Regions from separate parts of the Homo sapiens genome. Here region 1 is linked to region 2. Evidence: fine-mapped expression QTL. Tissue or cell type: whole blood. Region 2 holds a variant in brackets; the other region holds the start of a gene. All regions are shown on one strand. Distances are from middle to middle. Region 1 holds the start of NIPBL-DT (NIPBL divergent transcript). Region 2 overlaps NIPBL (NIPBL cohesin loading factor).

Region 1 (11,633 bases), 47 kb before region 2:
GCTGTTAAAATGAGCACCATAAGCCTCTCTTCATACCTATTTTAGATGTTTTAAGTTTTTAACAGATTTTATATTCTTCCTTCATAAATACAGTAATTTTTTAAATGATGTTTTTCCAGATTAGTTCAGTATTAAAATACTTGACTAGTTTAACTCTGGTTCACATGCAGAGTATGTGTAGGTTCCAGAAAGATTAGGCTTTCATGAAACTTTATGGTCTTAAATAATTTTACATTAAAATACTTCAGAAGTGCATTTTTTGAGGCCCTTCCCTCTGTGTAATTCTTATGCATTACACAGTGAAACTTGTAGTATAATGTGGAACTGGTCACTTTGATTTAGTAACATAAGGTATAGATGCATGAAAACATAAACAGTAAGGCCAGGCACAGTGGCTCACGCCTGTAATCCCAACACTTTGGGAGGCCGAGGCCGGGGGATCACGAGGTCAGGAGATGGAGACCATCCTGGCTAACACGGTGAAACCCCATCTCTACTAAAAGTACAAAAAATTAGCCGGGCGTGGTGGTGGGCGCCTGTAGTCCCAGGTACTGGGGAGGCTGAGGCAGAAGCATGGCGTGAACCGGGAGGCGGAGCTTGCAGTGAGCCGAGATTGCACCACTGCACTCCAGCCTGGGTGACAGAGCAAGACTTCGTCTAAAAAAAAAAACAAAAAAAAACAAAAAAACCATAAACAATATAGGAGTGTCATAGGATTATAAATAGATGGCATGGATAATAAAATCTACAAGTTTAGAGAAAATTCGTAATTATAGGTGAGAAGTATTAATGAAAGGACAAAGCTTGTTCTTAAAGGATCAGAATAGGCCAAGATGAAAAAAGGCATCCATGGGAAAAGAACTGTTCATTTCTATAATTTTAACAAAATAGATAATCTATGTTGAATAAAATCCATAAATACTATTTCCAAATTTGATTAAGGTATTTACTTTGAAAACCTGAAACAGGAACATATTTACAGTGTTAAGTGATTTGATAATTTTGTAGTTCTGCCCTAAAAATCAATATCCTTAATTAACCCTTCATCAGTTTCTTAAGTCATCTGTCATCCTGAAAGCAAGTTAATTATTCTAAATGTTAAATAATTTTGGTAGTGTCTAATCTATAAAACATACATACACTACCAGTTTTTTTTCTACCTTTAACAAATTCGTTCCCATAAAAGACAATTTTATCACTAACAAAGGATAACTGGCAGGCATAAAATAGTGAGTAGAAAATGATTTTCTAAAATTTTTCATTTCTATCATTTTATAGCAAGTTGCATTTATCTTAAAGATAAATATTCTTCAATAAAAATAACAATTCAAATTTTTCAGTTGTAGAAATTCCTGGTGATGACATTTGATACAAATAGTTTATCCCTGAAATCCATTTAAAATTTTTAATCAAATCTTCTGCAATTCATTGATCAAGAATACATACGAGACTATCCAGGGATATTTCTAGCAAAGAAAACTGAGTCATGCAACTCAGTTCTTGAAGCAAGGAGGCAATTTAAAGTCAGAATAAAGGTTTACTGGGCTATCCTCAATGGACAAGTGGAGGATGTAAGTCACCTGATTTGGAACATAAAAGACTTAAAAATGTAAGAGCAAAACAAATGGATGGTATTGGGAAAAATAATTATTAAGAAAAAAAAACCCAAGACAATGAAATGAAGAAAACACTAATATTAGATTAACAGATTCTATGTAAGATCTCAACTTGGATACTTAAATTTATGCAAGCAAAATACCATTTGATTTAATAGAGAAATACTGTGATATGAATTGAAACAATTTCTTTGATTCTATAACCTGGAAAAAAAATGGTATAAACTATATACAAGTTAAAACCCTCAAAGGCAGTGTTGTTTTCATTCACTGCCATGCATGAGATGTCTAGCATAAAGCTAATTAGCGCCTAATAAGTCCTCAATAAGGGAAGAAACTAAAAAAACTTAAAAATTTTAAATTAAATGACACAATAATGCCAAGACTTTCCAAAGCAGATTGACTGTAGCAGCTGCAGTTACCTGGACATGCAAAATTACTAGTTTACCAGTAACATTTAAGAAAGCAGACAAGAAGATAATTGTGCTTCTATTAGCGAATTGAAATAATGGTATTTTGAAACTGAGTGAAAAACACATTCTGAGTCATCTGTATTAACTTAAAGCTGTTCTGAAGATTAATGGGAAAAATAATAATGAATAGACGATTGGATTTACTAAACAATGTTTGATTAATTGTATTAATGGTTATAAAATACCTATCAAGGCTGTCTTTTCTTGTCCAAAAATTCAATACATGAAATATGAAAATTTGTAATACCATAGCCAAAGCCTTATTGCATAGCTTCTAGCTTACTGATATATTTACTTATTTTAATTTAAAAAGCCTGTTTTTCCAGCCACTAGGAAATAAGATTTCTCACGTTTTATAGTACTCAAAAATCATGATTAAGTATATCTAATGCTAACCTAAGTGTAAGCAAACAGCAAACTAAATGGTGAATTAAAATATCCACACCAAGCCTGACCTCAGCTTTCATTGAACCTTTTCTTCAGAAGAAAACTAAAAATAAATTTCACTAGCATTTGCTTTGCTTGACAGCATAATTGAGTAGCAACCAAAGTAGCCACATGTGGTCCTTTATGTAAGGCCTTCTAGCCTCAGAAACACACACCTTTTGAATTAGCGTGCCTGGTACCCATTTGTGCCCAATAAATACTTGCTGAATGAACTTTTCCAATAGTGCTGGATTTGCTCTGAGCCAACCAAATTCTCACTTTTAATGTATTTTGAAAGACAGAGGACGACAAGATGAAGAATGCAGTTTGAGACTCAGAAGAGCAAACATAATCGGCCCAGTATGGATATGATCATTTGATGCACTGTCCTCGGGCATGCTCATTTACAGAAGCCTAAAAACAAATTTTATCCCTCATTTGTGGGTTTCTGGTGTTGTGGAGGGCTTTCCAATGTTTAGAAGCAATATATTTTTATAGAATTCTGTAATAAACGTGTTTTAAATCTTTTATAAAGCTCTCTGTAGCATATAAGTACATATTAAAGACAGAAATGGGGGAGCATCAAGGCCCTTATAATCGCATTCATTCCTTAACCACATACTACGCATCTACTGTGTGGCATTCTAGGCGGGGGCCGTAACACCAGTGCAGAAAAACACAACCTCTTGTCCTCTTAGAGCTTACATTGCACTGGGGAAGGAGAGATAAGAAGATAAACAAGTATGGATATGTAGACTGTCCAAAGGATAAAATGAGAAGGGGGCTAGGGAACTTTCAGTTTAAAAGTAGCCGCGGAAGCACCGAGTGACACGAGCAAAATCCTGAAGGTGAAGGAGCAAGCCCTGTGGACGACGCTCAGGGAAGAGTCCTACTCGCAAGGATGCCAGGGCAGGCCCGCCCCCACCCTCAACGGCGCGCGGGGACTTCTGCCGCAGTCAAGGCTTTGGCTCACTCCCCTCAAGACGGGAAGCCATTCGCAGGGCCTAGAGAAAAGGAGTGACAGGATCTTGGCCCCCTGAGTGGCCTGAGGCAAAAGGAATAATCTAAGCAAGTTTTCCTACTTACTTTTAGCGCACTGGTACACACACAAATACACAATACAATTCATATAACACGAATTTCGTCCCGGTTGAGTAAAATTCCGCTTACCTACTGCACTTTTTACCGAAAATAGCCCCTTTTTAATTTACACAAACTTAATAGAGAACGGTGGAACAATGGTTACTTCTTGTTTTACAATTTAAAAACTACAACAACCATAGTACTGTACGTATAATCACATATTGTATTCCAGCCTTGTCCAGCGCCTCAGTTTTCCGAACCTAAAGAGGAAAACGATGTTTGAAATCAGCTGGCCGCAGGCCCGCGGGTCGCCCGCAGTCACCGGTGGCTGAGTCGGGGCCGGCGGTTCTCCCCGCGCGCTCGGCTCCACCCACACCTAGAGGGGGGCGCCCGGGCAGCCGCGGGCGAGCTTCTCGCTCGCGCAGCGTCGCCTACAGGCCTTTATCCTGACCGTTAGAGAAGAACCCAAACCTCTGCCGACAAAAAGCAAAAGCAGCGGAGACCGCGTATTTCCAGAAATAAACGCATCATCACAAACACGATTCCAATTCAATCCAGCCGACAGTCGTCTTCACCTCCAAAGGTTGCGTTCTTATTCGCAGAAATAACACGCAGTCGGGCGTAAGGTCCCGGCTCTCAAAAGGCAAGGTGTACGATCCATCCATCCACCCGGCTGCAGGGACACCATTTAAAACGGGCATCATCGCCATCGAATCGCGGGCGTCCTCTGTGGGGCCGCCCGGAGATCGGCTCCCTAAAGCTAACGACGACCTGGGACAGCCAGCGCGGCCTCCAGCCGCCGCCGTCGGCGACCTGAGAGCCCGTCCGGGCCTGAGTGCCCCCCACGCTCACGACCACCACCGAACTCGGGCCCCGCTCCTGTCGGCCTCCAGGAAAATAAAGACAGAGGAGAGCCGGCCCGCCTGTGTCGCAGGGCAAACGTCGCTCTGAAGCATCGACAATACTGGCAACATCCACAGCCGCCCTGAGGGGACGGGCGTAGAGGAGAGCTGCCGCCTCCCGGCTGCTGGGCCCGGGTGCCGCGCGGCGCGGCCGAGGACGCGAGCCCAAGTGGCGGCAGCGGCGGCTGCGGCGGTGGCGGAAGTGGAGTGGGGAAGAGGGGGTGGTTGTTAGTGTTTGGCGCCGGCGGAGGGAGTCATTCCTGCAGCTGCACTTCCGGTCGGCATTTTGTTCTGAGAGGGAGAGACGGAACGAGAGAGAGACACACACAGGGCTCCTTCCCCCCGCCCTCCCCCCCCTCCCTCCGTCGGTACCGACTCACCCGACACCACCAAGCCGCAGGGAGGGACGCCCCCGCCGACAGGAGAATTGGTTCCCGGGCCCGCGGCGATGCCCCCCCGGTAGCTCGGGCCCGTGGTCGGGTGTTTGTGAGTGTTTCTATGTGGGAGAAGGAGGAGGAGGAGGAAGAAGAAGCAACGATTTGTCTTCTCGGCTGGTCTCCCCCCGGCTCTACATGTTCCCCGCACTGAGGAGACGGAAGAGGAGCCGTAGCCACCCCCCCTCCCGGCCCGGATTATAGTCTCTCGCCACAGCGGCCTCGGCCTCCCCTTGGATTCAGACGCCGATTCGCCCAGGTAAATTCCTGCTCTTTATTTCGGCGGCGGCGGCGGCGGCGCCGGCGCCAGGTCCTCAGCGTCTCTCCTCCTCGCTCCCCTCCCCGCCGTTTCCTTAGCGGCCCCAGGTCTCTTCCACAGGCGAGTCTAGAGTTCGCTCCTCTCTGGTGGCAGCCGCCTTGGGTAGCGGTGGTTTTGTACCCTCTCCCGGCCGGCTCCGGTGGCGGGGACTGGGCTCCTGCTGGGCGGCCGGGGAGGCGTAGGCCCGGCGGAGAGTGCAGGCCGCGGGCCAGCGGAATCTACTTGAGCTCGGGGATTAGGAGAGCTCCGGGCTGAGCGGAGCGACTGCTGGTCGGTGACAGGCCTCGCCCGGGAGTGGAGCCGTAGCTAGTGGGGAGGCGGAAACAATACAACTAACAGCAAATGTGCCCTGATCGTCCCCATATTTACAACTTTCCCGGTCCGGGAGTGGGGAACGTCCCAGTGAAACAAACAACCTCCCTTCTTCCCCCTGTGACCCCATGAAGGGAGGAAGTAGTTTCAGTTAGTGAGACAAACGTAAATACTCAGACGCGGATCCAGTGGTAATTCTTTCTCTTTCTAAAACTTGTTTGGACGTTGGAAAGTTCATAAAGACTCATTTTCTTTTTTAAAGAATTAAATCGTCCACATGAATATTTAATACAGAAAAACATACTGTGGTAGACACTGCACATCTCCCCCTCCCCAAGAGCTTTTATCTTGTTGTTTTGACAGTGTGTTGTTGCACATGGACTTTTTATTCAAAGACAAGTATAAAGTACTTGACAGGTTTACTCTGCCACTTTCTATTTGTATGCGTTATGTAAGGGCAGTTTTAAGCGACTATACGTAAAACACTCAGGTACTTCCTGACCAAAACGTGTAGGAGCATACAAAGAATTTTAAGTGTTCTGAGAATTGTGCTGAGATACGGGTAAAACCACTTTTCTTTTCTTTTTCCAAAAAAGAAATTAAGTTATACTTAAAATCCTTGGGAGGTTAAAAAATTGTAGAAGGTGCCATCCTTTTATGTCAGGGCAGTTCTTCTTGAGGTCCCAGGATTGTCATTGGCTGTTTGTGCCATGATGTTTGACTGTGTAATGAGAGAGGTGTCATTTTAATAGGTTAAATGTATCTGTAAATGCTGGAGAAAAATATCAGTTCTAACTTGACAAGTTCTAGTTCATGAGTAAGTTAAGTGTTTCGAGCTTGTTTATGGAGGCGTTCATAATGTAGGTTGGTATAAGGGGGAAACACCAATTTAAAATTCCTCAGTCAGGCAAATTGCTAGAAAAGTGTACCTGGGTTACACGTTTTGATATTTTGTTTCATATTCGCTGAAGGAAAACTTTCATTGGTTAAAATGAAGCAGCACTGCTCAGCGAAATCCCTTGTTTTACTAGTGTTTGTTACATTGGTTCATATTTTTTGTGTCATTAAATTATTGTCACTGTAGAATAAGTTATTTTGTGGAGGTTATTTTTGAGTTTAGCGTCCTGATTACAATAAATTGTTTCACATTTCCTGCAAACGTACGGATAAATGTTTAAAAGAATGAAGTTAATATAGCTGTCACGTACTAGGCATGTTTTTAATGCTATAAATCCGTGTAGTAGTCAGTAGCGTGTCCGTGATTTGTATTGGTCAGGGAGCAGTTTGAATTTTAAAAAGCCTGAAGCTCCTGCTGAGCCCCAATCCCGGCCTCCCTCCCTCCCACTAATCTCCCATTCCTGTCTTTGTGCTGCCTGCTCCTGTTAGACACTGTTTGCTACGGGGCCTCAGGCCTACTGCGGGTGGGGGGGTGTGCGAGTGGGGGGCATGCCAGGGAGGGAATGCAGACGGGAGGAATACTTCACATCTTAAGAAAGCAGAGGGTTTGTTTTTTTGGGGATGGAGGTGGTAAGGGCTTCATTATAAATGTTTAAAAGGCCTTCATATATTCCTGTGATTGTCTCTACAACTTTTATTTCAAGGGATAAACATATTTTTACTAAAGATAATAGAGGAGTTGTGCTTGCTTAATTTTCACGAACTGAAGCAACTTATTTTTAGAGGTTGTCTTATGCAGATGTTTGAATAAGTGTGTTAGAGATGGGTTTATGTGATTGATTCTTTTTTTTCCTGAGACTTTGGAATTGTTATAGTGAATTAGTTCTTCCCAACTTATTTTCCCAATTCTACATATTTAGTAATTTGTGAGTAATATAGGTTGTGTGATAGCTTTCATTATGATAGCATAAACATTTCTTTAAATTTAAAAATATGTTTTGTTTGGTCCAAACCAATTAAATACGTCATTTTTAAAGGAGAAAACATTGTGTAAAATTCAAATTGTAAAATTTAAACTTGAACTTTAAATCTCTGATAACCTAGTTGGAGAGAATAGTTTGTTTCCCTAAAGAGTGTAGAGTGTTCTGCTTCCCCTCTGTTGGTTGGAATATTCACTAGTGGCTAATCATCTATTTCCATTAAAAATTAAAATTCAGTGAAAGGAGAAATCAGAAGTGTTCCAGTAACCTTATAATCCTAGTTATATTATTTGGAGAAATATTTTCTCATACACCTAAAGGAAATTTCAACAATGTCGCTTATTGTTTCTCTTAACTCTGAAGAGTTGTCAATAACTTTTGTTACTTGAAAAGAGATTTCAAGTAAATAATGAAAGTAAATCAGAGTTGAACATTAAATAGATAATTTTCAATGTTTGAGAAGTGTATATAGGATGCTTCCTTTTTAAAGTTATTCAACAATTTGTTTACTAAAGTTATCTGAGAACATTTTTGAACCTGTTCTAGAGATCATTATAATATTTTCTGCTTTTAAGGAAAAGTTATACATTACTTGAAAAAAGAAAAACAGTCTACTTGAGATTCTTTTTAGGGATGTAAAGTGAAAGTTTTTACTATGGCAGTAAACTTGGTTCTTCATAGTAATCATTATTAAATTTCAAAAATATGAGCAAGCTATACCAATACAAAATTTTCTTTACTTGCAGCCGAAAAATGTATTTTCTAAGGCTTCTTCAACTAATTTCATATTTAATTTTTTGGTACCAATCCATCATCAAACTGTCATAGAAATATTTGAACATATCTGTGTTACATGTTTGAAATACCCCATTGTGGTATTTTTACTTTCTCAAAATAAGATGTAGTAATTAATAATATAAGAGTAAATAAAAACCAGGAGTTTGAGTTTTATTTAATTTCATTTAATCCTCCTTTCTGGTGCTTATTAGGAAAAGCATAATTTGGAAGAAATTCTAAAATTTTAAATTAAGATTTCAGTTTTATGTGAAGTGATTAGGGAGTGTGAGGTAAACAGTAATTCCTTTTAGAGAAATGTAACTTTAATTCTGTTTATCACATTTACTTGCCATAAAAATGAATGGGAAATAATTGACTAGGAACCTTTATAGAAGGCTGACAACTAACTGTTCAGTTGAACATGCTTATTTTAATATCCTGAGCGTACTAGGTTAGGTTTGGTGGTAATTTATGGTCTTATATAGCCTTTAAAAATTGTTTTAAGATGGACTTTTTAAGCAAAGTTTTTCGTTTTTTCAGCAGTTGTCATTTATAATAATTCTTCGTATTTTAAAACTAGTCCTTTTTCAAGGTGACCTGAGTTCATTTAAAAATATTCTGATATCCCTGTGAGAGAAGTGACCAGCTTTCCGTTTAATGATGAAATACTTGACACTTAAGAGACCATATGATTTGTGTAGATTCATGTAGTAAGTCAGCCGGAGGATAAGGGATTCCCTGACACTAGTATTTTCTTAGATTATGTTGCTTTAAGAAATGTGTGAGCTCTGGTCTTGAAGCTAGGTATTGCTCAGTGCTGACACTGACACCATTTGTTACTTTTTCAATTATCTAAGTTCAAAGTGCATTTTTCTTGTCTTTGAGAGAGAGGATACCTGTTTCTTGGTTGTATTTTCCTGGTATGAAAATAGAGTGGGATTTTAGTGTTTCTGGTTGATTTAAAAGGAATTTTAAACTCCATGTCTCTTAAGGCCATCATTGTAATTTTAAAGGGTATTTTATGTGCTTAGAATATTTTGCCCAAATAAATTAAGTAATAAAAGTAATTTTAGGTATTTGTCTTGTGTGTAATTTTTTTTTTTTGGTGTAAATCTGGAGTCAGTTTTGTTGAATTGAGTTTTGTCAAGTTGCATTATGTTTTAAGGCATATTTTTTTCTATTCCCAAAGTTATATCATTAGGAGAGATCATTGCTTGATGTAGCATTGCCAGCTAAGATTTTGAGGACTTATTTGCCAGGAGTTAAGTCTGTCCCCATAATATCTCATTTAATCTTTTAACATGCCCAAAAGTAGAAACAATAATTATCTACAATGTACAGATGAGGAACCTGAGGCTGGAAAGGTTTAGAAAACTGCCCATGGTCCTACAATTAGTAAATGATCAGTCTGATTTACATTTGTTCTTATGGATTCAGGATTCTATGTATCTAGTTTCAATGAAATTTTAATATTATCTTTTGGGTGTTAGTTGATGTGATACTTGCCCAGTCACTTAGTCAAGAAAATTGTGTACTTCAGGCAAAGAAGCTGAAATAGAATTCAGGCTATATATTCTGTATTTATAATACTTTTAAAAATCAATAACTCTTTACCATCTTGTGTTTAAAACAATTTTTGTTAAGCAGTCTGTGAAGCTTTTAGTTCTTTGAAGTATTTTATATTGAGTTGAAGATGTTTGTCAAAGCATCTGTTGTTAGAAAGACAAAGTTCAGCTTTAGAGAGTCATTTCATTCATAGAAATGTATATGACCAATTGTAGGATAGTAGCTAGATCTATAAATTAGTATGACTGATCATTTTGTAAAGTTTCAGTATTTTTATAGCCAGAGAATGTTGATCATTATAGTCATCAACTTGGGAGGTTGTGCGCTTATTCCAGAACTGTTGCCAGTACATACAACCTTATAGGAATTCCTTTTGTGAATACCTTTAACACATTTGAAATAGTCTTTTTCTCATCTTTATGACAAATCTTTATTTTCTGGGGTGAATTTGAGTTTTAGATACTGTACAACGTCACTTGAAACTTAGTTTAGGGATTTTTTTTGTGTCTGGCACTATGTTGAGTGCTTTATGTTTGTAATATGTAGTATTATTGAATGTTTCCATGTGACAGAAACTGTGCGAGGGAAAAGGTTTTTCAGTTCCTCAAGGTATTGAAAAGTTGAATATGAAATTGAAGTTAGTTGTATGAGAAAACTGAGATATAGAATGATTACGTGACTAGCCCAAGGTCACACAACTAATAAGTTCAAGACAGTGGAGAAAGGATTTCAGAGTTGATACTTTACCCATAAGCCTTAACCACGATACTGTGTATCATGATTTGAACCACCCAACTACTCAGTGAAGTTAGTGATACTGTTCTCTTTTTACAGAGGAAATTGAGGTTCATCATGCTTAAGAAACTTATTCAGGGTAGCAAACCTAGCAAGTGTTAGAAGTAGGATTCCAGCTAAAATGTATCTAATTCTAAAACCTCTATTCTTTACATTCTACCACCCTGGCTCTTCAAAATTTATAATACAATTTTTGGTGAAAGGGTAGCCTTGATTATGAAGTTAGTGACACTGTTTTTCTTGTGGAGCTTACAAGAGTAATTCTAAAATGTTTTGATCAGTTATAGCTGATTCATTATTTGATTATAGTCTTTTTTTTTAAAAAAAAAACCCACCTTGTTACTTTACTTCGTGTATAGTACACAAAATGTTTGTATATTCAAATATGCATATAAATAGGATATTGATTTTTAAATGCAGGTACTGTGGAATATATTAAATGTAGGTATCTGTGGAATAAGTAGCTTTAGAAAATTTGGCAAAAGCTATTCTCAGGCTATAACAATACTGAAATTTTAAAAAAATGATCAGTCATGCTAATTCATAGATTAACTGTATTTTTATGATTTTATTGTGACTCTTGTTACTTTTAATAATGTTAAGCATTAAAAAAATTCCCAAGAATGCATTGAATTTTCAAAATAATTCATGTAGGTAAATTGCTTTGCCATCTTACATGTGTGACATATCTCTTAACATGCATATACCAATTTCCTTTGAGTTCTCTTTTGTACATATTTCTCCTTTGACAGAAAAGAAAAACTTTTTCAGAAATTAGCAATATTAATTTATTAAAATAATTATATATATACTTTTGCCTCTCCTGAGAAATGCAGAAGCTGTGACATAATTTTAAAATGCTGGATTTCCTTTTGTTAGAATTAACATATTTGGGTCACTTATGCAGGTGAAATGCACAGTTATTTTTATATGAGCACTATTGAAAAAATACTATTCTAGATACATTAAAACTAACAAATGTCTAAAACACTAATTATTAAATTCTGACTATACTTTTAAAATATTAGTCTTTATGATTGATATTTATGATAT
Region 2 (11,633 bases):
TTTTTTTTTAAGAGATAGGGTCTCATGAAACTGCCCAGGCTGGCCTTGAACACCTGGGCTTGAGTGATCCTTCCACCTCATCCTCCCTAGTGGCTGGGACTACCGGCATGTACCACTGCACCGAGTATTACTTTTTTTCTCTTTACCATGTGCTTCTGTGAACTTTATTTTAATCCTTACTTGAAAAGCATGATTTTGAACACACCCTGTGATGAAGGTTACAATGCTTATTGCAATATTGCAATAGAAAAGGAGCTTTCAATTTTGTAGGCAAAGTTTTTGTGTGCCAGATCCCTGACTGAGAAAGAAGATATTTTCATTTAAAAGTAAGCAAATAATCCTCTACTTTTTTTCTAACACAGCAAATTGATCCATATGCATAATGAAAAACCTCTGATATTGAACATAGAGATTCTTATTAATTGCAGTGTTCACAGGATTAGAATTTAAATACACAAATAGGTGTCTGCAGCTATCAATACCAGATGACTCAGTAAGCTAAATACAGACTTTAATAGAACTATCTTGGATGCCTTTTAAAATATCTTTTAAACTTGTTGTCAGGTATTCTGTTTTATCTTTTGATTTCTAAAATGGGTTGTAACATTTGAGATTCACTGAAGTTTCTTTTGTATTTTTTATGGCAATAGTATTTTGCCATTTTCAGGATAGAAATACTCATTTTTGAAGCTATTACAGTAGGCAGCTTTTTTGTAAGGTGATATGAATATCAGAGAAATATAACTACATGTTATACTTCTGATTTCATGGGATTAAAAAAAGAAAAGGCTTCTCAAGTGACACAAATGCATATGTTTTCAGAGACTAAGAAAGCATAAATTGATGATGACAGAACTTGTAACGCATTTAGATTTGTGTCACTTGAAAAACACTTGTTACAAGCATGTTGTCAATTTGTGTATTTCAACAAATAGCCATTTTAAAGAAAAACATAAAGTAAATAATAGTACACTGATGATATTCAGATATGGTGAAATCATACAGGTAGACCTTGAATGAATAATGAGCACATTGCTTTAGGACAGATGTGACTCTCAACTTTTGATATTTGACTGTGTGAGTTTAAAGTTGATGCTTTAATTTTTTAATAGGTCAAACTTGGGAATCTAATGACTGATAGTATTTTTGATAAGAAAGCACTAATATAGAACAAGAAACAGTGTTCTGAAATGAAAATTATCAGACTTCCACTTTCTGTTCATATCTATTTCAAAAAATGTACGTGGCATATTATGTTCTTTGCTACTTAGTGGCTATTAAAATGGAATCATTTTATAAATGTCTTTCAGCAAAGAAAAATGTTGTCTGCTGCTGTGATCACCCGCCACTAAGTACTGTGCTCCTCCTCTCAGTAGCTTGACCACCTTATATACTTTATGTGGCATCTTTAACCTGTATCTGTCACCTTACATATCTTCTTCTTTGTTCCTTAATTTTTTTTTTTTTTCAAAGACTGCCTGGACCTACTCTCTCATTCTCTCCTCTGTATTGCTGCTATAGTTGTCACTTTCTTCTACATTCCCATTCTCTGCTTTGGCTGCTGTAATTATCTTTTGCTTTTACTATTTTGATCTTGTCATTCAGGACTGTACTATAAATTACATTTTACCATGGGTTAGGTTTACCTATCTTCAAAAAACTTCAGATTACCTTATTCTCTCCTCAATACCAAATAATATACTCTAGTTTTCTTAGCTAATTTTTAAGCGTCTCCCCATTCCTCCAGATCCACCAAGAAAAATTCATCCTACACCACATTTTTACCCCTGGACCTAAAGTGTATTATATGTTCTTGAACAGGAAAATTTCATCTCCTGAAAAAAAAAAAATTACTGATATTTCCATGAGTACATATTGATTCTGGTTTGACTACTATTTTGAAATAGAGTGGATGTAAAAATCTATGATGAAATCTTAAAACTAGTAAAATTATCATTAGAACTAGTATTATACATGGAACTATTAGTCTGGTAGCATAGTCTGTTATACTACTCACACTAAAGCAAAATAAAAAGTACTGTCTTCACTTGGAACTGTTGTCTTACAATTCTGTGCCTGTCTTCACCATTTCATGAAAATATTAATTGTTCTTCTTGGCTTACTTTTTCTTTAATTTATGTTCTTGCCAGGTCAAAATCAAAAGTGATGATTTAGGACTTGGGCATTTGTCGAGATAAGTTCATATTGTCACCACTTTCCCAATTTTGAAGCTTACAAAAAAAATAGGCAGGATTTTAGTTTGCCTTCAGTTAGGGAAAGGAGAATTCATTTGCCACAGGAGTAAAATCCTACGTTTTATAAAGCTATTTTAATGAAAATACCAGCTTTCCAAAATGAATGGGACAAACACAGAATTGATTGTTGCTTAAAAACTTTAACTGTATTGAGTTTTGGTAAATCATAATTCAAAAATAAAATGCAGGGGGACAAGAAATTATTAACTTTTTATTGTTGAAATACATTTTCCTCAAAGTGTTTTTTTGGTTTTGGGTTTTTTTTGTTTTTTTTTTTTGAAACGAAGTCTTGCTCTGTCACCCAGGCTGGAGTTCAGTGGCGTGATCTCAGCTCACTGCAACCTCTGCCTCCCGGGTTCAAGTGGTTCTCCTGCCCCAGCCTCCCGAGTAGCTGGGATTACAGGCTCCCACCACCACGCCTGGTTAGTTTTTGTTATTTTTAGTAGAGGCGGGGTTTCACCATGTTGGCCAGGCTGGTCTTGAACTCCTGACCTCAGGCGATCTGCCCGCCTCAGCCTCCCAAAGTGTTGAGATTACAGGCATGAGCGACAGCACCTGGCCCCTTCAATGTTTTTCTTAAAAATATGTTACCAGTTTCTATCACTGCCCATTTTCCACCTCCTTATTTTTTGTATAATGACCTTGAATTTTGACCCATTTCTTAAAAATTGGATTTTTATCATAATTTTTATACTCTTACCCTAAACCTATTAGTTTGATTTTTCAATAAGAAAAATCATGCTATTCATAGTATAGGTGAAATCTCATCTGAGGTTACCCACTTGAGTAGTATATTCATAGAAAAAGTATTTTGAGTCCTTAAGAGCCATGAAGAAAACAAAACTGAGGGGTCAGTTTTCTTTTGGCCATTGTCGAGTATTATACTTTTAACTTAGTATGAAATGTAGGAAATGTCCAGCATACTGGATACTTATTTCTCTGGAATCACTCTGGCTGTCTAATGGTGGTATTTGGTATTACTGCAGAAAGCACAGGTTTTGTTTTAGAAAGTCCTGGATTTGACTATCTTACTCATTTTATGAAGTTGTGCAGTGATGAACTCTGAGGTTCATGTACTTATATTACTTATAAAACATTTAAATTGTTAGGGTTGTTATGCCTAAACTTGATGATTTTATGTACCATCGCAATTTTGTTGAGAAGATAAATGCCAAAAAGCAAACCCTTGGAAAATTAGTTTACCTTTCTTTACCTTACCTTTGATAAAGGGAATGTTAAAGGGTAACTGATTTGAACTACAGATTTCTTTTCTACCACCTTTAAGGTCCTTTCCAGTATTATCTCTGTAAACAAAGTTAAAGAAAAATACATTTGAAAGAAAAGATTTGTTGTAACTAAACCAATTAAAGCTGGCTTCTAGGCCAGGGCTGGTGGCTCACACCTGTAATCCCAGAACTTTGGGAGGCCGAGGCGGGCGGATCACGAGGTCAAGAGATCAAAACCATCCTGGCCAACATACAAAATTACAAAATTTTTGTAATTTTGTACTAAAAATACAAAATACAAAAATTAGCTGGGTGTGGTGGCGTGCACCTGTAGTCCCAGCTACTTGGGAGGCTGAGGCAGGAGAATCGCTTGAACCCAGGAGGTGGAGGTTGCAGTGAGCCGAGATCACACCACTGCACTCCAGCGTAGATGACAGAGCGAGACTCCATCTCAAAACAAAAAACAAAAACAAACAACAACAAAAAAATGCTGACTTCTCAGGGCCAATGATGTTATTCTCTGAGATATATATATATTTTTTCCTTTCATGGATAAGTTGAGGACATTATCTTGATATCTCTTGATCTGATAACTAGAGTAATCTTTGAATATTGTTGTTAGTTATTATTAAAAACACTTATTAAGGTCCTTTATGGAAAGTGACCAGTTTCCTGCTTTTATATACATTCTTCTTTCTGTGGCCTGAAACATTATGTGGTCTTTGGTTATTTACTTTACAATTTAGTTATTCTGATAAATACTCTTACTTTAAAAATTTTATATCCAGAAGAATCTTTTTCTGCAGTCACAGAAGTAGTCTTGGTTGACCTGTTTTGGCTTTCTGTGTAATGTCTGTATTAGATACCAACTGATTGATATAAATGAGACTCTAAGGGGATAATAATAAGTGTTAAGGCCCAATCAACACCCTGAGGCTGTGAAAATGTTCACTACTATTTGTAGAAAGTTCATATATAATATGATATAAAAATTGCAAATTGAGTCCTGGCAATATCTAGTCTTATAAATGGATAGAGCAAGATGCACTTTTGAGTGAATGAATTCCTGTTTTAAAGTGGTTAAGGATTATATTTGCAAGTTCCAAGTTATCTGTATTCTACTAATTGTCCTATAGATGACATTGTTATAATTTGTTCACTCACATTGTTGCTTTCCACTAAGATCTGTTATTATTATCTTTAGGATTTTCTTATTTGTTAACATGATTGCTTAAGTGATTAATCAAACTAAATCAGATAACATAGAACTCAATGAATATAGCTCTTAACTTTGGATAACAGCTATTTTCCTCTTGAACTAATATCCAAATTTTTGATCTTTAAATGTTACAACTGCAGTAAGCATGGAATATTATTGAAATAAATTTAAATATAACTGTTTAATAAATTATTAATTATGGATGATTAATAAAATGTTTAGTGTGTTACTGAATGTTTCTTGAGAAAATTTTATATCAGTTTAAATAGTTTTGTAGCTTGTCAGCATTACAGAATTTTTTATTTTTTTATTGTGTCATTAAGTGTAGTGGTTAAGAACATAGGCCTGGAGTAAGATTTGAATTCATATTCTGATTGTGGTCTTTATTAGCTGTGTGAACTTAGGCAAATTACTGTAACCTCTTTGAAAAGGCTTCCATTTCTATAATAGTTTGCCAGCTGGTTTGGTCAGGAACACTGTATTGTCTTGTGTATAGGTGTATCCACAATGTCTGGTACCTTGTAGGTACTCACTAAATTTTTAATGAAATGAATGATAACTGCTTTGGATGATTGCCATGAAAATTAAATGATGATATGAATGTAAAGCAGCTAGTAATGTACATAGCTGACACTAACTGCTGTTATTATCAACAGTGACAGAAAATCTCCAGTCTAGCTAATACAAGAAATAGATTTTTCCTCAGACTCTCATCTCACATTCCCTTTTAAGATTTCCTTGTCCTATCCCCACCCCAGACGTTTCCATTTTGCTTTTATTTTCTATAATAATTCCTGGGGGCCTCTATTAAAGGCCTTTTTCTTTGACTACTTACATCCATTATACCAGTATCTTTGTCAGTAAAATTTTATATATCTTTTATTCTGTCATCAGGTTAAGAAACAATAATTGTATTTTTAAAGGAAAATATTTTACGATGCTACTAAGCAGTTACTTTGTCCACTTATGCAGGTATTTCATAAGTATGAAGTAGGGAGGTCAATATCTGTCTGACAGGAATCTGCTGAAGATTAATGTTATCTAGCAGAATGCTTGGCATATAGAAGGTACTCAAATAAGTGATGCTATCTATTAATAGCATTGATAGTAATACTTTAAAACACTCTTTTCTAGTATATCATATCTCCAAATTTAATATTTATTGTCTTTTACACTTATTTTACATACATTAATTCATTACTTTTTTTTTTTTTGAGATGGATTTTCACTCTTGTTGCCCAGGCTGGTGTGCAATGGCGTGATCTCGGCGCACTGCAACCTCCGCCTCCTGGGTTCAAGTGATTCTCCTGCTTTTGCCTCCTGAGTAGCTGGGATTACAGGCATGTACCACCACACCGGCTAATTTTGTATTTTAGTAGAGACGGGGTTTCACCATGTTTGCCAGGTTGGTCTCGAACTCCCGACCTCAGGTGATCCATCCACCTCGGCCTCCCAAAGTTCTGGTATTAAAGGCATGAGCCACCGCGCCCAGCCAGTTCATTAATTTTTAAAATAACTCTGAGGTAGGCACTATTATCCTCACTTTATATTTGAGGAAACC[C/T]TCAAAGAGACTAAGTAAATAACTTAAAGTCTTTCAACTAGTACGTGGCAGAATTATAATTAAAAACCTGTTTTTGCCACTATTGCATATTGTTAGAAGGCTGTTTCTTCTTGAGGCTGAGCTAAGAGAACATATATCCATCCTACGTAACTTACAGTTCCCATTGTCTGTTCATTTGCCTATATTCTACTCACATTTCCTGCTTTCCATTCTTACTTATTTCTGTCCAACTAGACCAAGAACATAATATTCTATACCCTGTCTCCCAAACTTCTAAGTCATGGATTTGTTTTAACCTCCTGCTATGCTCATTTAGCTAGGTATCATTTATGAATATTTTCTTCTCATTTTCGTACCCATTCTCAAGTCTAATTCATTGATGACTCAGTCACGTCAGTAGTTTCTCCATTACCATGGCAATACCTTCCTGAATATGAGAATAAACATATATCCTGACTTAATTCCTTTGGCTCACTCTGTGAATTCTTTACCACTTTTGAACACTGTAAATGTACCTTTGAGAACTTCTTTGTTGCCAGTTTGATTTAAAAACAAAACAAAAAAATGTTACTGACTGTTCCAGTTATCTGTTGCTGTGTAACAAACTACTCCCCATACTTAGTGTGGTTTTAAAATAACAGCCATTTTCCTATGTCTCACGATTTTGTGGGTCAGGAATTTAGGCAGGGCTTGGCTTTGTTCATGTGGTGGTGATGGAGGTTACTTGGAGGTATTCAGCTGGTAGATGGGCTGGCCAGAATAGTTCCAGATGGCTTTACCCATATAAGTGCCGCCTTGGTAGAGACAGCCAAAAGGCTCGATTCAGCGGAGACATCATGTGTAGCATCTGCATACAGCATCATCAGCATGGCTTTTTCATGGTCATGTGATATTTAACATAGTGGATCAGGGTTTCCAAAAAGTATTGTCAACATGCTTATTTGAAAGCTGTAAGATTTCTTATCACCTAGCCCCTTTCTGCTGCATTTTATTCACCATGCATGTCACAAAGGTCAGCCCAGATTCAAAGGAGAGGAATTAGCCATTACCTCAATATGAGGACTAGCAAATAATTTGTGGTTTTTATTTTTTATTTTTGTGGGTACATAGTAAGTATATATATTTATGGGGTATGTGAGATATTTTGGTATAGGCATGCCATGAGTACTAATCATGTGGTTTTTAATCTGCCACATTGAATTAAACCAATTATTTTAGATTGTGTAAATTCAAGTTGAAAAAAATTGGTAATAGGGCAAATGGTTTCATGTATTTTTTTACCGGGAACAAATTTAAACAGTTATTAGAATCAGAGCACCTATAATGGGAGTCAATTTTTCCTGAAGCTGAACCAAAATGTTTATTGGTTTGATTTGAAAGGAGAAGTTGGTTTTGTTGACGTTAGAACTATAAACACTTTTTCCTATAAATATGTATATTCTCCCTCTAATATTTGCTTTATGATTAACAGTGTACTATCATCTGCTTTTGTATCACGACTTGAGTTCAAGAGTTGTAGGTGTATGAGATCTGAGAAAAGAAAGAATCCTCCACTCCATTTCATTTAATGTTATATTCTCACCAATTTATATAACACTTACATATTATAAGTATTGTTTTCTCAAGGAGGATACAGGCATATTTTACTGAGAGGAGAAAAGAATATCAAGGCGGATTTTTGGTTTAAAATGTTATTCATATTCTAAACTTGTAGATCATTATAAGGATTTTGCCTTTGCTCTGAAAAAGTCATTGAAGGATTTCAAAAAGAGTGACATGATCCAACCTGTATTTTAATAGAATCTCTGATTGCTATGTTTAACTGCCAAGGAGTGCAAGAGTGAAAAAGACCAATTAAGAGTCTGGGAAGGGAGCATGGTGGCTTGGAAATGGTCGAATTTTGGATATATTTTGAAGGTAGAGACTCACGATCCAAAAGTTGTGTAAAAAAGATAGGAGTCAAGGATAATAAGATTTTTGGCCAAAGGAACTGGACAAATGAGTTGTCTTTAATCAAAATTAGGAGTATTGTAGAAGAAGCACGAAGAACAGTATAAGGAATTTATTTTGGAAGTAAGTTTGAGATGGTTGTTAGACATCCAAATGGAGATATCAAATAGGCAGTTGGATATACCAGTCTGGAGTTCAGGAGAGAGGTCCAGGCTGGAGTCTTTAATATATATAGTGTTTAAAATCCTTGAGACATGGAAATCACCAAGGGAGAATAAAGTGGTAAAGGAGACGGGTTTCGCCATGTTGGCCAGGCTAGTCTCAAAATCCTGGCCTCAGGTGATCCACCTGCCTCAGCCTCCCGAAGTAGATTACAGCCATGAGCCACCATGCCCGGCTGCAGTGATTTTTTTTTTTTAAATTTTCTACCACTTTCTTTCAATAAAACCATACTCGATGCACAAAAAGAGCAGGAAAGTCAGGAGACTGGGAAGCTTTGCAACTAACTTTGAATGTGTGGTCTTGAACACGTAATTTCATCTTTTTCTTATCTGTAAAACGAAGAGATTGGACTAGATTATTTGTAAGATGCCTTCCTACTTTAATATATCAGTGAATCTTTTCAAAACAGGGTAATTATATTGAATGTAACTGTCATCCTAGGGTAAGTGAAGTAGTCTTTAACTACATGCAGGTGACAGTTTGTAAGCTTGCTTAAAAACATGATTGCTTTGCCTATTCTTCTCAAGAAATTTTAGTCAAGTGCAAGTTAGAGCTAATTAATACAACCAAATCACAGTGTTTGTTTTTGCATTCCCAGAAATTGTTAGTACTGTATATGATCAGTATGTACAATAAATGTTTTTACTAACTAAAAAAATTTCTTAAGGAAAAATATATTGACCTAAGGAGAAATGTTTAGAGCTAGATAAAGGAGATTAATATCTCTAGATGCAATTTTACTTTACAACGTTATTGAGGTATGATCCGCTTAATATAAAGTTCACCTGTTTAAGTATACAATTTAATGGTTTCTAGTTTTAGAACCTTTTCATCAGTCCCCAAATTTTCCTCAAGCCTATTTGCAGTGAGTTCCCAACTCCCACAGCCCTCTCCAGTCCTGGCAACTACTGATCTGCTCTTTGTTTCTATAAATTTTTCTGGACATTTCATCTAAAAAGAATTATATGTAGTATTTTGCATCTGGCTTCTTTCACTTTGCATGTTTTGAGGTTCATTTATGACATAACGTATCAGTATTTTGTTCTTTTTTATTGCTGAATGGTAGTTCATTGTATTATGATATTTTGTTTGTCTATACACTAGTTGGTAGATACTTATATAATTTCCAGTTTTTTACTTTTATGAGTAATACTTTTTTGAGCATTCATGGAGAAATCTTTGTGTAGACATACGTTTTTATTTATCTTGGATACATTCCTAAGAATGGAATTGCTGGGTCATATGATAATTAACTTTTTAAGAAACAGCCAAACTGTATTCCAGTGTGGCTGTATCATTTTACATTTCTACCAGCAGTGTGTAAGGGTTCAAGTTTCTCTACATCTTCACCAACAGTTAATAGTGTCTTTTTTTATAACATTATGACAGTTTAATGGATGTGTCATGGTATCATTGTGGTTTCAGTGAGAATATACCTAATGACTAATGATACTGAGCACTTTTTTTTATATGTTTATAAGCCATTCACATGTGTTCTTTGGTGAAGTGATATTGAGCACTTTTTTTTGTATATTTATAAGCCATTCATATGTGTTCTTTGGTGAAGTGTCTTAAGTAAGTTCTTTGCCCATTTTCAAAGTTGTGTTATCTTCTTGTTCACTAGTGAGAGTTCATTTAAATTCTGAATACAAGAGCTTCATCAGATTTGTGATTTGGCAATATTTTCTCCCAGTCTATGGCTTGTCTTTTCATTTTCTTATTGATATCATTTGAACTATGAAAATTGTTAACTTTAATGAAATCCAGTTTATCAGTTTTATCTTTTATGGCTCATGTTTTTGTTATCTAAGAACTCTGCCTTGTTTTTGTCATCTAAGAACTCTGCCTGACCTAAGGTCACAGATGTTTTCTCCTATATTTTCCTTTAGATGGTTTATAGTTTAAGCTCATACATTTAGGTATTTGATCCATTTGAATTAATTTTTGTGTATGGTATAAGTTAATGGTCTGTTTTTAAATTTATTTTTGCATGTAAATGTCCAGTTATCTAAAAATCATTTGTTGACAAGACTGTCTTTTATTCCATTGAATTTTGTGGGCATCTTTGTGAAAAATCTAACATAAATACAAAGATTTATTTCTGGACTCTAGATTCTCTTCATTGATCAATCCGTATACCTGTCCTTATATTAATAGCACACAATCTTGATTACTGTAGCTTCATAGTAAGTTTTGAAATTGGGTAGTATAAGTTCTCCAACTTTTTTCTTCACTAAATTATTTTGGCTATTCTAGATCCTTTGTATTTTCCTATAAAGTTAGGATCAGCTTATTTCTATGGAAAAAAAACAGCTGGGATTTTGAAAAAGATTATGTTGAATCTATAGATCAATTTGAAGAGAATTACCATATTAACAATTTTGAGTCTTCTAATTTATGAGCATGGAATGTTTTAGATCTTTTTGGCTCAGCAGTGTCTTATAACAGTGTGCAAATACAAATCTTATACTGATTTTTAAAAATTTATTCCCAAATATTCTTCATGGTCCTAGTTTGAATGGAATTGTTTTCTTAATTTCATTTTTGCATTTTTGCTAGAATATAGAAATACAACTGATTTTTGTATGTTGATTTTCTATCTTGTGATCTAGCTGAGCTTTTTTTTGATTCTAGTTGTTCGTTGGTGGTTTCTTAGGATTTTCTACATACTGGACAGTGTCATCTGATAATGCAGTTTCATTTCTTCCTGTCTAATCTGAATGCATTTAATATCTTTTTAAGTTTTTTTCTTAAAATGTGTTACTTTTTGGTGTTTTGCTGTACTAACTAAAACCTACAGGACAATATTCAGTGGAAGGAATAAGAACAGGCATTTTTGTTTTTCTCCTGATAGGGAAGTTAGCTGTAGAATTTTCATAGATGCTCTTTATTAGGTTGAAGAAGAGCCTTTTTATTTCTAATTTTTGAGAGTTTTAAAAAATAGTGGTTGTTGGATTTTGTCAAGTGTTTTTCTGTGTCTTTCAAAATGGTCATGTAGCTTTAGTTGCTATTTCTATTAATAAGATGTTTTACATTAATTTATTTTTAGATGGTTAACCACCCTTGCATTCACAGGATAAATCCCATTTGGTCATAATGTGTAGTCATTTTTATATGTTGATGAATTTGGTTTGCCAGTTTTTAAAAAATAATTTTTGTATGTGTGTTCATGAGGGATATTGGTCTGTAGTTTTCTTGCA

What was found.
Region 1: NIPBL-DT starts here. The variant in region 2 is fine-mapped to the expression of NIPBL-DT in whole blood (INTERVAL, PIP 0.92).

The regions. Positions count from the first base shown.
Region 1 is chr5:36,871,986-36,883,618 of GRCh38, forward strand. NIPBL-DT (NIPBL divergent transcript) reads right to left here and starts at 4,709. Exons shown (of 1, transcript NR_046262.1): 1 at 1-4,709. NIPBL (NIPBL cohesin loading factor) reads left to right here and starts at 4,784. Exons shown (of 47, transcript NM_133433.4): 1 at 4,784-5,193. RefSeq lists an enhancer at 4,080-4,129 and silencers at 4,540-4,649, 5,290-5,409.
Region 2 is chr5:36,919,372-36,931,004 of GRCh38, forward strand. All of the region lies in intron 1 of NIPBL (NIPBL cohesin loading factor), which reads left to right. Among named protein-coding and RNA genes, the nearest start is that of NIPBL, 48 kb to the left of the region's middle. The variant C/T (reference allele first, on the strand shown) is at 6,262.